Linked DNA regions of Homo sapiens. The protein of the gene in region 1 purifies or fractionates together with the protein of each later gene. This does not show direct contact. Each region holds a gene or a part of one and is shown on either strand. Other genes may lie near its edges. The genes, in order: ARHGAP4 and WDR33.

Region 1 (3,812 bases):
AGCTAAGGCCAGGGAGGGCAACGACTGGAACCTCGAGGAGGGAGGAGTTTGGCTTCCAAGGGGAGGCAGAGATCCCCCAGGACAGATGTCCCTCACCTGCCACACACCCACTCTCACCTTATCCACCTCCACGTGTTGCTCTGGGGAGGCTGGGACCAAGCAGCGTCGTCTGTGTCCAGAGGGTCCCATGGCCTCAGGTGAGGTGCATGGCTCTGGCCTGCAGGACAGACAGGGAGCCTGGTGGGGGCCCTGGGAAGTCCCTGAGCTAGCTGGGCAGTGGCTCCTCCCATCCTGGGGTGTGGCCAAGGAAAGGAGGCTGGCCCAGTGGTCCCCAAGCTCCTCTAGAGCCTCTCCCTGTCACAAGCTGGGTCATTCTGTCACGTCCTCATCTGCCAACTCCTCCCACTCCCACTGGCCAAAGCCTGACCCCAGTCCCCTCTGGCCTAGAACAGCACACGTGTGGCCCCCTGAGCCCCGTCTTCTTGCTCACCGGTGGACCAGCTCCGATGCCAGGAGGCCCTCGGGACTGCTCCCAGACTCCCCTGCAGTCTGCAGCCCTGCGCCCACCACCTGCTTCTCCGTCCTGCGGTGGGAAGGACCGGCCTGTTTCGAGTGCTCCTTCCCTGCACGGGGTCCAGGGCCAGCAGCTCCGCGCCAGCCAGGAGTGGTCAGAGAGGCTCTGTTCTCTGGCCCAGCCCAGACCTTCAGAATCTAACTTGGGGTCGGGGGAGGGGTGGATGAAGGGGAGACTCCGGGAGCCCTGGGGCCTGAGGGCGCGGCTCACTCACCCGGCGGGCAGCGTGATATACTTGTGGGGGATGAGGCCCCGCATGCCGTTGTGCTCCCCCCGCCACCAGTCGCTCGAGGCCCTCTCGTGCAGCCGCAGTACGTCCCCCCGCCGGAAGCTCAGCTCCTGGGCTGTGCGGCCCGTGTAGGCAAAGCAGGCCACAGCCTCCACGACCCCCTCCAGGTCTGGGGAGGAGAGGGGGTCCAAGCTGTGGGAGGGGGTGTGGACACTAGGGTGGGGACAGGGTGGGGCTCTCTGCCCATCGCCCTCACCATCCTCCTGTGCGGGCATCTCGGCTTCCAGCTCCGGCTCATTGTCCGCCCCCAGGCTCTCCAGCTGGGCGTCCCTGAGGTTCAGGGCAGAGCGAGGCAGATGAGGGGGGCTCTTCTCCAGTGGACCCCCCAGTCCCCTCGGCAGCACCAAGGGTGTACCCCAGGCAGCTGGCGGAAGGCGGTGCCATGCACTTCTCGTAGACGGGGCCAGGCAGCGAGGTCAGGGGCGGGAAGACCCGATCGGGCTGCACTATGAGCGTCTGCACCAGCTGGTTCACCCGGCCCTGCAGCGCCACCGGGTCCTGCCCAGCGGGCACCGGTAGCAGCGTGGGCCCGAAGCACACGGCCAGGTTGTAGGGGTCCATCATGTTCTCATCGCTGTACTGGGCCAGGCTGGGGGGACACGCACATCACAAGCAGAGAGCCCGCACCCCGAGTCCCCCTGTCCCCTCGACCCCTGGCCCCCACCCCAGCACTCGCCCCGCAGCACTCACTGGTTGAGGAAGGTGAAGAGGTAGCGCAGAACCACCAGCACCGGCGCGGGCAGCCGCCACAGCAGGCGGCTCACGTGCTCCACCCTCTCCGCTGTGGCCTCCAGCTCTGTGGCCAAAGCCGCCCAGAGAGAGCCGCGTGAGCGGGGCTGCCCCAGCAAGTGCCCTACCCCGCCAGCCTCAGGCCCCAGCCTCACCCGAAGAAGCCAGCAGCTCGCCGAACAGGTCTGGGGGGAAGAGTGGGGGCTCCAGGCTCCGGAAGTAGAGCTTCAGCACCCCGGCCACCGAGTCCAGGTCATGGGCAGTGCAGCCCTCCACCAGTGGGTCCTCCCCTGCAGATGGGCGAGTGGTGCGGTAGGGGGAGGAAGCTGGTGACATCTGCCCGAGCCCCCACCCCCGCCCGCCCTGCCCGTCCCCACCTCTCTCGAAGGCATCACGGATCTCTGAGACCCGGAGCTGGGCACCCGATACCCGGAAGATGCCTTCATGCTGCAGGCCTGTGGGAGGACAAGGAGCTGGTGGGCACTGAGCATCTTCCCCAGCCCCTCCAGGATGGCCTCCCATGCCAGGTGCTGGGAACTGGGTGCTGGGTGCCAGGACATCGGGAGGGGCTGGGTCCTGCTTACCATTGAGGTTGATGAAGCGAATGCAGCTCTCCACCACCAGGGGCACAGGCTGGCCTGAGCTCTGGGGACAGAGGGTGTTTACTTCACCATGGACACAGCATGCCCTGTGTTGTCATTCAATTGCTTTTTTTTTTTTTTTTTTTTTTTGAGACAAGGTCTCACTCTGTCACCCAGGCTGAAGTGCACTGGCGTGATCTCGGCTCACTGTAGCCTCAGCTTCCTGGGCTCAAGTGATACTCCTGCCTCAAGCTCCCCAATGGTGGGATTACAGGCATGAGCCACCGCACCAGGCTGAGTGCTTTTATTTTCTCTGAAGAACACATCATCGTTGTCGGCACAGAGGCTTAGCACACCGTTTGTTAGATCCACTCGTAGGTGTCTGATATTTTTGATGAGGTTTTAGGCAGTGCCTTACGTTGTATTTGCAAATTGTTGCTGGAATATACAAATGCAATTGAATTCTGTACACCAATCTTGAATCAAGTAACATTTCAAAACTCAAGCTGGGTGTGGTGGCTCATGCCTGTAATCCCAGCACTTTGGGAGGCCAAGGGAGGAGGATCACCTGAGGTCAGAAGTTCGAGACCAACCTGACCAACACGGTGAAACCTCACCTCTACTAAAAATATAAAAATTAGCCAGGTGTGATGGTGCACACAGCTACTTGGGAGGCTGAGGCATGAGAATCGCTTGAACCCCAGCAGGTGGGAGGTGAAGGTTGCAGGGAGCTGAGATCGTGCCACTGCACTCCAGCCTGGGCAACAGTGCAAGAACCAGTCTCAACAAATAAAAAAAAAAAAAAAAAGAAAGAAACTCAAAGTGCTCGTTTAAAGAATCTGTTGATTCTTTTGAATATGCTACACGCATAACCACATCACTGAAAATGACGATATCAGTTCTGATCTTCTGGTATTCTCCATGCCTGGCCCTCTCTGATGCTTGCTTGCTTCTTTTCTTTTCTTTCTCTCTCTTTTCCTTCCTTCCTTCTTTCCTTCCCTCTCTCTCTCTCTCTTTCTTTCTTTCACTGGGATTACAGGCACGTGCCACCATGCCTGGCTAATTTTTGTATTTTTAGTAGAGACGGGGTTTCACCATGTTGCCCAGGCTGGTCTCGAACACCTGGGCTGAAGGGATCTGCCCACCTCAGCCTCCCAAAGAGCTGGGATTACAGGTGTGAGCCACCGTGCCTGGCCCCCTCTGATGCTTTCTGATCTCAGTATTAGTTTTCTGATCTTTCTTGCTTCCCCTTATTTCACTGTCCAGGACCCCCAGTACCATGCTGGCCAGAAGTCGCAGGGGAGAAGCTCTCAATATCTCGCCCCTAAAAATGCCGCTGCCCCAGGTTTTCTATACGTTCCCATTACTAGTTAAGGATGCTCCCTTCAATCAGCGGAGGCTATAGGGGAGCCCAACAGTGGCCTGGAAGAGGCCCACCCAGAAAAGGACAGTTGATGACTGATTGAGAGTGGAGGACCCTGGGATCAGGCAGCTGCTCCGGCCACTGAGGTGACCCAGAGCTGAAGAAAGATCAGCATGTACAGGTGGGCTGGCATGTGGGGCAAAGCTAGTACCTGGATAAACTTCTCCATGTCTCCCCCAAAGAGTCTCTGGTTATACTGGGAGCTGGGGCGGGGCT
Region 2 (3,812 bases), on another chromosome or scaffold:
AGTTCATATTTATTTCAAAATTTAAACATTTAAACACGAAAGGGGGAAAGCAAAAGCTCTTTATTACAGAAAACAGTTAATGAATATAAACAAATAACAAAATTAGAAAACCCCCAATAAATGACTCAGCTAATAATCATCAATCATTAAGTGAAAAATATTTTGAGAAGTGAGGTACTCACATGATGCTAAAGTTATCACCCCACAGATCAAGTATAACTGCAAAGGGAAAAATATACCTCTTTGATGAAGAAATCCAATGGACACATTAACCAGGTAAATTTGGCATTGTAAATAACGCAAGCTAACATCTGGCAGTCCCTACCACCTTATTGAAGGCTCATAGCTAGAAGTATATCCTCACAACATAAATCACGTATCATCACCTGTGAAGTTTTTTCTTTTTTTTTTTTTTTTTTTTTTTTTTTTTGAGACAGGGTTCTCTTGTCGCCTAGGCTGGAGTACAGCAGCAGGATGTCGGCTCACTGCAGCCTCCACCTCTCTGGCTCAAGCCATCCTCCTGTCTCAACCTCCCAAGTAGCTGGGACTACAGGCGCAGGCCACCAAACCCAGCATTTTTTTTTCTTTTTTTAAAATAGAGACAGGGTTTTGCCAAATTGTCCAGGCTGGTCTTGAACTCCTGGGCTCTAGCAATCCATCTGCCTCAGCCTCTCAAAGTGCTGGGATTACAGACATGAGCCAGCGCACCTGGCCTCTATGAAGTATTTTTGCCAAAAATATTTGACCCAAATTTAGTCAAACCTCTCTAGATCTAACTTCTAGTTTACAGGAAATAAAAGGAATAGAGAAACAACAGGAATTGAGAAACAAAATACATGACATTTTAAGCATACAATAAGAAATTCCAAAATATGGAACGTTCTTTAAAAAGATGAGGCTAGCTGTTTGTGGTGACAGAGTCAGGAAGGGGCAGCAGGTGCCAGGTCCGGCCTCAAAGGTGGCAAGAAGAACCCTTTGAAACTGCCCAAAAAGCAGGCCAAGAAGATGAATAAGGCTTTCAAGCAGAAACAAGAAAAGGAACGAAAGAAACACAAGGAGCTAAAAGCGAAAGCCTCCTGGAAGGGGCTCCGGCCACAGGTGGAATTTAAAAATCTGGCAGAAAGTAAGCTGTGCCCTGTGCCTGAAGCAATGGTGACCCTTGATTTCATTCGTATTTAAACATCTGTATTCCCTGCCATAATATCTGTTGCCACCTATAGCTGGAATGAAGTGTCGTCTTGAAGCTGGAGTCTACTGCACATTAAAGAATAAACTTTTGTTTAAAAAAAAAAAAAAAACCGCAGGTGTGGTGGCTCACACCTGTAATCCTAGCACTTTGTGAGGCCAAGGTGGGCAGATTGCTTGAGCTGGGAGGTTGAGGCTGCAGTGAGCTGTGATTGTGCCACTGCACTCCAACCTGGATGACAAAGTAAGACCCTGTCTCAAAATAAACAAAATTTTAAAATTTTAAATAAAAAATATTAATAAAATAAATTAAAATGCTTACAGTGGCTCATCATCTCTTTAGTTGTTTTTCTTTTTCTTTTTTTTTTTTTTTTTGAGACAGTCTCGCTCTGTTGCCCTGGCTGCAGTGCAGTGGCACAATTTCAGCTCACTACAACCTCCACCTCCTGGGTTCAAGCGATTCTCATGCCTCAGTCTCCCGAGTAGCTGGGACTACAGGCATGCGCAACCACACCCGGCTAATTTTTGTATTTTTAGTAGAGACGAGGTTACACAATGTTGGCCAGGCTGGTCTCAAACTCCTGACCTCAGGTGATCTGCTCACCTCAGCCTCCCAAGTGCTGGGATTACAGGCGTGAGCCACTGCGCCCGGCCTCTCTTTAGTTGTTTTCACTCCATTCCTGCCTTAGCTATGAATTTAAAGTAAAACCAGCCCAGAATCTTGCCAGAGACTGCTCTTTGGTCTTTGTTCTACCCTAAACTCTGTGTAACCTAGAATTAAACCAACTCTTCAACAACTGTGGAACAAAGCCAAAAAAAAATAGAACTACACCAACTCATTCGAAAAAAAAAAAAAGATGATGCTAAAGATTTCATGCTAATTGCCTTAGGTATGATAATGATTTTATATGTTTTCAGCTGGAGACTGGCTTGAAATAAAAATGTAGAAAAGCGTAGGAAAAAGCATTATTTCAAAGACATGCATCCTGAGGTATTACAGGGAAAAGCAGTATATCTGCAATTTAATTTCAAATCATTCAAGAAAGGGAGGATATAGAGTTAAAGCAAAATGGTTAAATGTTGGTTAACAGTCGAATCCAAACAGAAGGCATATGGGTGTTCACTGTAGTATTCTTTCACCTTTGCTGCATGTTTGAAATTTTTTTTTTTAAGACGGCATTTCACTCTTGTTGCCCAGGCTGAAGTACAATGCGCAATCTCAGCTCACTGCAACCTCCGCCTCCAAGGTTGAAGCAATTCTCTTGCCTCAGCTTCCCAAGTAGCTGGGATTACAGGAATGTGCCACCACGCCCAGCTAATTTTTTTTGTATTTAGTAGGGATGGGGTTTCACCATGTTGGCCAGGCTGGTCTTGAACTCCTGACCTCAGGTGATCCACCTGCCTCGGCCTCCCAAAGTGCTGGGATTACAGATGTGAGCCACTGCACCTGGCTTGAAATTTCTTAAAGTTGCAAAAAAGTTACCAGAATATTCCATATACCAAAAAAGGAAAATTGCTGCTCCACCTACTAAGTTGAGAGCAAACAGAGTAGAGAGCAGGTGCCTATAACAACAAACTGCCTAAAGCACAGTTTTGCACGTATCATCCCACTCAAGGATCTGCTCAAAATGGTAAGGCATAGAGGCAGGTACTAATGGGACACAAAGTAACAGAAGGCAGTCACACAGACACTAGACTAACTAAACAAGTTATGAATAAATGAGAGTCACTGAAGACCTCATTAATTGGATTTAGCTGGATTTTAAGGACTGAACAGAATAGGAATAGTGTGAAAGGAAGGAGAATACAATCTAGGCAAAGAGTTAATAAGCAACAGCCAAAGATCAGAAATAAACCAAGTCATGAGGGGAATTTTTGTAGAAAATTCATTCTTCAATTTGTATAATGCCTAGGTTTTAGGAATACAAAAATATAAGGTACTATAGCACGTCTTCAACGTGCTCACAAAGAGCTGGCAGCAGGGACTCATGACTCCCAAGACTTTGAAAGGCTGAAGTGGGAGGATCGCTTGAGCCTAGGAATTAGAGGCTACAGTGAGCCATGATCATGCCACTGTATTCCAGCCTGGGTGACAAAGTGAGACCCTGTCTCAGAAAACAAACAAACAAACTAAAAACCAAAGTATTCACAAGTAGTGGAGAAGGTATAGTCAAAATACATTAAAGATATATACAAAATGCTTTAATAGCAGAGAAAGGAGTGATTAACTTATCAGAGGAATGAGATTGTCAGTAAATTTCAACAAAGATATTTGAGTTAATGTTTAAAACTGAAAATGATGTCACCAATTAAATTCATCACAGAAAGAAAAAAAATGTTAACATTTAAAGAATGCCTACTATATATGAGGCACTTTTTACCTTTAGGTTTTATAGTTAACATTCTTATATACAAAGAAACTGAAGCTTAGAGAGTTTAATTAACTGACCCAATATAAAAAAGGTAGTTAATGGTGAGCCTGGCATTCAAACCTAGGTCCATTTGCTGCTGAAACCCATACATGCCCTTTCCAATACTACCTAGCTCTGGGAATTTATAAGCACACAAATCATGAGTACAAGATACAATACAACTTTAGAAAGTCAGTCACTACCAGAAAATTAGTA

What was found.
Region 2: the proteins of ARHGAP4 (region 1) and WDR33 purify together in Homo sapiens (affinity purification with mass spectrometry, with the first as the bait; one large-scale study listed by BioGRID). This does not show direct contact.

Annotation. Positions count from the first base shown.
Region 1 is NC_000023.11:153,908,953-153,912,764, forward strand, and holds part of ARHGAP4 (rho GTPase-activating protein 4), read right to left. Parts: coding exon 3,748-3,812; intron 2,238-3,747; coding exon 2,177-2,237; intron 2,048-2,176; coding exon 1,970-2,047; intron 1,883-1,969; coding exon 1,748-1,882; intron 1,660-1,747; coding exon 1,554-1,659; intron 1,453-1,553; coding exon 1,219-1,452; intron 1,134-1,218; coding exon 1,060-1,133; intron 973-1,059; coding exon 789-972; intron 584-788; coding exon 491-583; intron 218-490; coding exon 118-217; intron 1-117. UniProt on the Homo sapiens protein: Inhibitory effect on stress fiber organization. May down-regulate Rho-like GTPase in hematopoietic cells.
Region 2 is NC_000002.12:127,804,668-127,808,479, forward strand, and holds part of WDR33 (pre-mRNA 3' end processing protein WDR33), read right to left. Parts: intron 1-3,812. UniProt on the Homo sapiens protein: Essential for both cleavage and polyadenylation of pre-mRNA 3' ends.